Regions from separate parts of the Homo sapiens genome. Here region 2 is linked to region 1. The links come from fine-mapping of genetic effects on gene expression. A gene starts in region 1. The other region holds a variant in brackets. All regions are shown on one strand. Distances are from middle to middle.

Region 1 (2,931 bases):
AGACTTCATCCATCAATGCCCTCTGCCACTAAGTAAGGCCAACCTGTAAACTGATCACCACAGCCTGTCAACACTGGTTACTTAATTATATAAAGAAAATATGTTTAAAAGACTTTTGATAATTTGGTTAGTATTTCAACATCTTTTTCAAGGTTCCTTAAAATAATAGCTAAAGCATTTTTAAGAATTAAAAACTGAAAACTATGACTATTTTTATGTTTCCTGCTAATCTTTCTTTTTCTTTTATTTGCAGAAGGGAAAAATAAAGATTCAGTAAGCATTAATGAAGATGAATATAAATGAAATAATATTTTTAAAAGATATTTTAATTAAAAATTAAATTCAATGCATGCATAGTATTAATTTGTGCTTATTATTATTTATTTTCATAACTACTAATTCCAATTTACTTCTGTTACCAATTGGTAGCTTTAATACACTAATTTTTTTATAGAAAGGAGAAACTTTGTTAGGGAAAACATTTCTTCTAAGGAAGAATATTTTTATACTTTCAGCTTAACTATTCTTAAAGCCTACTACATATTATGAAATTCTCTACAATAAAACTCATGAAAGAACAATCTATTCATGATATTCAGGGACATCCTTTTTTATCAGGTGTTTGGTTTTCTTTCCATGCAAGAATTTAATAACGAACCTCCAAAGGCACTGATAAGAACAAAAAAAACCCTTCGTCTGTATATTTTAAATATGTTTCCATTAAAAAAAGTAGCAAATATGGAAATAATGTCACAAATTCTTTTTTGAAATCTTGATCCAATGTATTAACCATTTGAGAAAATATTTTAAGTCTCCTACTCTCTGCAAATTGCAAATACATGGTAAAAAATTTGTGATTAAATCTAAGAAAATATGCTTGAAAACGTAATCTGTTTACCATCAGCAATTAACATCCTTAAATTACACTTTAAGGATTCTTTACAATTGAATGATAGAATTATCATTTGATAATTTTAGTCAATATCCCTTTAGAAACTATCGTTATCAGAAATTTTTCAATTCAATATACTCTCGCTGTATTTTTCCTCTGGTCTGTTTAATCTAAAAGATCGTTTCCTTAAATCATAGTGATTTTATTTTCTCATCTAGTTAAGATATTTGTTATTTGTTTGAAGATAAATACCAAAATAAACACTTTATTCAGGAGTACAACAAAAAGATTTCTAGATAAGTCTTACCCTCTTTCTTAGTGGGTTCTGGCATGGCCACAATAAGATGTTATTCTTTAAAGAGTCTCCTTCCCTCCACGACTAGTTGACAGAAACCCCACAGGCAGGCGAGAGATGGTGCAGGTCGGTGTGACAAGCAGTTGGGGAGAAACCCAGTGCTTTTATACTGCCTCTGAACATCAATCATGATGGCACCTCCCTTTCTTCAGCACAAGGATGCAGGAACTTGACAGCTATGGGGACCTTTCTCACATCTGTTGTCTGCACTCTGCTCTCTCGCCTACTGGAAGGAATCTCCTGCCCATCTCATGTGGCTGATGAGAACACCTCTAACTTTCTAAATTCAGCTGCAGCCTCGTGCTCCGTCTTGCTCTTCTCTCTCTGACAGATGCATGTGCTGACTCAGGAGTGCAAAAAGTTTGCTGGATGATTAAAAAAACAAATTAAAAATCATAATATGCCAATCCAACCTATACCTTAATTTTCACTAAGATTAGGCAGAAAAGTCTTTGTATTCAGATGATCACTTTTATGCTCCAATTAGCTTTTCATTTTCATCAGTCCTTAATTATTGCATTTATATTTTTTCTTATTCCTCATTGATATGTCAATATTAATTTTTCAAGCCAAATCTCTAGGTTAAATAACTTGTCTCATGTTCTTCTCTAAGAATAGCAAAGATTTCTATTAGGGGATACTCTGCGTTTGCATTTTTTTCCAAAAACATCATTTTTCAAAATTATAGGACATATAAAAGAATGAGGCAATGACACATGCTACAACGTGGATGAAGCTTGAGAACATTACACTAAGTGAAAGAAGTCAGTCAGACATACAAACGTAGACTATAAAATAATAGATCACTGCTGGGCTCATGCCTGCAATCCCAGCACTTTGGGAGGCTGAGGGGGGTGGATCTCCTGAGGTCAGGAGTTCGAGACCAGCCTGAACAACATAAAGAAACCCCGTCTCTACTAAAAATACAAAATTAGCTGGGCATGGTGGTGCATGCCTGTAATCCCAGCTACTCGGGAGGCTGAGACAGGAGAATCACTTGAACCCAGGAGGCGGAGGTTGTGGTGAGCCGAGATTGTACCATTGCACTCCAGCCTATGCAACAAGAGCGAAACTCCATCTCAAATTAATAATAATAATAATAAAAAATAATAGAACACACATTGTACAATTCCACTTATATGAAATATCTAGGACAGGCAAATCCATATGGTGAGAAAGTATATCAGTGTTTGCCAGTGGCCTAAGGGAGGTGGAATTGGGAGTGACTGCCAGTGCATATGGGGTTTCTTTTGGTCATGATGAAAATGTTCTGGCATTAGATAGTGGTGATGGTTGTACAACTTTGTGAATATATTAAAAACCACTGGATTATACACTTAAAAATATATATGGAGGCTGGGTGCAGTGCTGGGGCCTATAATCCCAGCATTTTGGGAGGCCAAGGTGGGAAGATCACTTGAAGCCAGGAGTTGGAGACCAGCCTGGGTAACAAACCAAGACCCTGTCTCTACAAAAAATAAAAATAAAATAAAAAGATATATATGGGGCCTGGGCAAAGAAAGTCAAATAGACTAGTAGCTATTGTTTTGATTCAAGTGATTCAATTGGAGGGTACACAAATCTAACTTAAGATGTTGAAAGACTGTAGTAGATGTGGTCACTTTCTCCCAAAACGCTCATGGAACTGATAGAGAAATAGGAACTACCAAGTAGTCAACCTGAA
Region 2 (2,931 bases), 52 kb before region 1:
TGATAACAGTAAGTGAGGTTTTTGTTTTTGTTCTTGTTTTGAGACAGAGTCTCACTCTGCTGTCCAGGCTGAGGTGTAGTGGCGTGATCTTGGCTTAATGTAACCTCCACCCCCTAGGTTCAAGCAATTCTCCTGCCTCAGCCTCCTGAGTAGCTGGGATTACAGGTGCATGCCACTACACCCAACTAATTTTTGCATTTGCAGTAGAGACGAGATTTTACCACATTGGCCAGGCTGGTCTTGAACTCCTGATCTCAAGTGATCACGTGCCTTGGCCTCCCAAAGTGCTGGTATTATAGACATGAGCCACTGTGGCTGTCTGTGAGTTTTGTTTTGTTTTGTTTTGTTTTCTATGTCTGTTCTTGGCAAAATAAATAGCAGGCAACCCTGGGTAAATTCTCCCAATTTTTTCACAGTTCTCCAAGTCAAATCAATTATTGTTCTCAAGAACAAACAAAACATATATCAAATATTATTCTTTTAGCAAAGAAGATACTAAATGCTAGACATTTCTGATGAAGGAGAATATATAAAACTCAAATCTTTGATCCTAGTTCCAGATGGATGACAGAGATCTCAGGGTTGTCTGTCATCAGAAGCCCTCATAAAGAAAATAAGGAAGACATGGCTGTATTCACACCCTCCAGCTCTTTTCACAATGTCTTAGTAAATGATAATTTTCAGTGTGCTTGGTACCAACCACTTATTAATGAAGCTGGTTTCAAGAGAAACCTATTTGTGATCAATTGAGTGTGTGAAACAAGGATTATCCAGTAAAATCTGTTGGGTTTCAAAGCTATAACTAGAATAATTATTTTTGCAAGATAGTGCTTGGCTTGAGTCAAAACATGAGGCATTTGTACTCAACAGGTTCTCTTTCTCCCCTCTGCTGTTCTAGTCTTCAACAAACCAGAAGACTCATTAGGATCCATAATAGCTGCCAGTGTAGAGGAGCCTCAGTTACTTTCACTTTGATCATTATCCCTGGGAGAAGAAGCCAACAGCTCCTGGTGACCACAATAAGAGATTTCATTTTTACCTCTTACGAAGAGCTCAGTGGAACATTTCTCATCACCGGCTGTCACATAATACTCTGAATCATCTGTCATCTGACAGTTATTGATAAACAGGATTCTCTGGCATCCTTTGTGTTCAAAGATGTATCTGTTTTGAATAGGATGAAAATAAACAGAGTCTGTGAATGTGATTTTATTCTTTTCTTTATTGCCAGCAAATTTGGCTTATAATTTGGTAGTGTTTGAAAGTCAAGGATCTGTTGTTTTTTTTTGAGACAGGGTCTTGCTCTGTTGCACAGGCAGGAGTGCAGTGGTGCAAACATAGCTAATTGGAGCCTCGACCTCCTGGGCTCAAGTGATCCTCCTGCCTCAGCCTCCCGTGTGGCCGGGACCACAGGTGTGGGGCATCAGGCCCAGCTAATTTATTTTTTGTAAGACTGAGTCTCACCATCTTGCCCAGGTTTGTCTCAGACTCCTCGGTTCAAGCGTTCCTGCCTCAGCCTCCCAAAGTGTTGGGATTACAGGCGTGAGCCATCGTGCCCAGCAGGGATATAATTTTGATCTGCTCTTTAGGTATCATATCTTACACAGTTTAACGTCAAACCAAAAAAAAAAACCAATTTTTATCTTTATAATAC[T/A]TAATGTATAAGCATATTTATATATACTATTTAATTTCCATTATAATTTTCTTTTACATAAGGTTTTTATTTCAAATAAAAATCAGTACTCACATATTTGCTATTTAATTTTTTTAACCCACTGTTGGAAGATAGAGTTGGCTGAGGGTGTCAGATTTTTAACTCTGTACATTCTTTAACTAACCAATTCATGTACTTTATAGGTGGGTAGAGACTTGATCTTATCCATTGATGTATGAATAAGATCTATTCATTACCTATCCCAGTGGTATAGTAGATTTCCTTGGGTGAATAAATGATTATACAATTTAAGAAATAATGTGATATAACCACAAACACACGCAGCAGTTCTATAGAATGTGATGTTCTCTTAAATGAGCTCAAGAACTGGTGCTATCATACAGTTACATGTACTAAGAAAGAATGTGAGTATTTAGAAACGAAAAACTAGAAGCCAAGAAGATTGTAAAATATAATTATCTGTGATCTGTATTATGGAGGAGCACATGATGGGATTAAAATAGACTAAAAACACTGTTTTGGGAATTTCTCAGATTGAAGCCTTCAAGAACAAGATATTTAAAAATATTTTCTACATAAAGATAACCAATTAAAATTATGTTTTTGGTAAATTCAGGCCATCTTCAAGAGATTTTTACACCAGATATTAATGTTATCATCACAAAGTCACTCTAGTGGCATGACCACATTAAGAAATTGGAAACCACCTAATTGTACTCCACAAGTAACAGCTTTCCAGGATTAACATCTTTTATAAATGTACACATGGCTCCTGTTAACCTAAAAAAATATATTGGAGTTGAAAATCTCTCAGGCTGAGGAGGATCTCTGTAAAGTAGTTTTATAATAGACTGGAGATACCATCAGACGTCAGGGATTAGTCTGTCTTTAGTCCGTCTCCATCTGTGAGAAGGCCAATAAATAATAAAACACAGGCTTTGACCCACATTTTGTTTTATCTCAACATTAAAGAGTTCCTTTTATATGCAATATTGCAAGTGCTCAAAACAGTACCTGAATTGAAAATAGAAGGTATTCACCCATTATGAAATATAGTCGTTATTTTGGAAAAGCAAAAGTCATCTAATTATAAGATGGGATTCCCAGGTGGCATATCAAATATGGATTGCAAGTTATTTTTCAATTTTATTTTTTAAAATTGGGAGAAATTTGGCAATACTCTGAAATAATCACATATAACCTATAGCGACACAAAACCATAATTGGAAAACACTTTAAATAGTTTTTTAGAATTA

Which allele goes with the higher level. Positions count from the first base shown, and alleles are read on the strand shown. Sizes are in standard deviations (SD) of each study's normalised expression.
For the expression in prefrontal cortex of the gene that starts at base 1,324 in region 1, allele T in region 2 goes with a higher level than allele A (small effect, 0.36 SD a copy in CommonMind).

What was found.
Region 2: its variant is fine-mapped to the expression of MYBPC1 in prefrontal cortex (CommonMind, PIP 0.95).

The regions. Positions count from the first base shown.
Region 1 is chr12:101,593,364-101,596,294 of GRCh38, reverse strand. MYBPC1 (myosin binding protein C1) reads right to left here and starts at 1,324. Exons shown (of 32, transcript NM_002465.4): 1 at 1,200-1,324. The coding sequence starts at 1,224.
Region 2 is chr12:101,644,996-101,647,926 of GRCh38, reverse strand. It overlaps MYBPC1 (myosin binding protein C1), which reads right to left. Exons shown (of 32, transcript NM_002465.4): 13 at 1,040-1,164. LOC105369937 (a long non-coding RNA gene) reads left to right here. Exons shown (of 2, transcript NR_188371.1): 2 at 899-1,207. Among named protein-coding and RNA genes, the nearest start is that of CHPT1, 51 kb to the left of the region's middle. The variant T/A (reference allele first, on the strand shown) is at 1,655.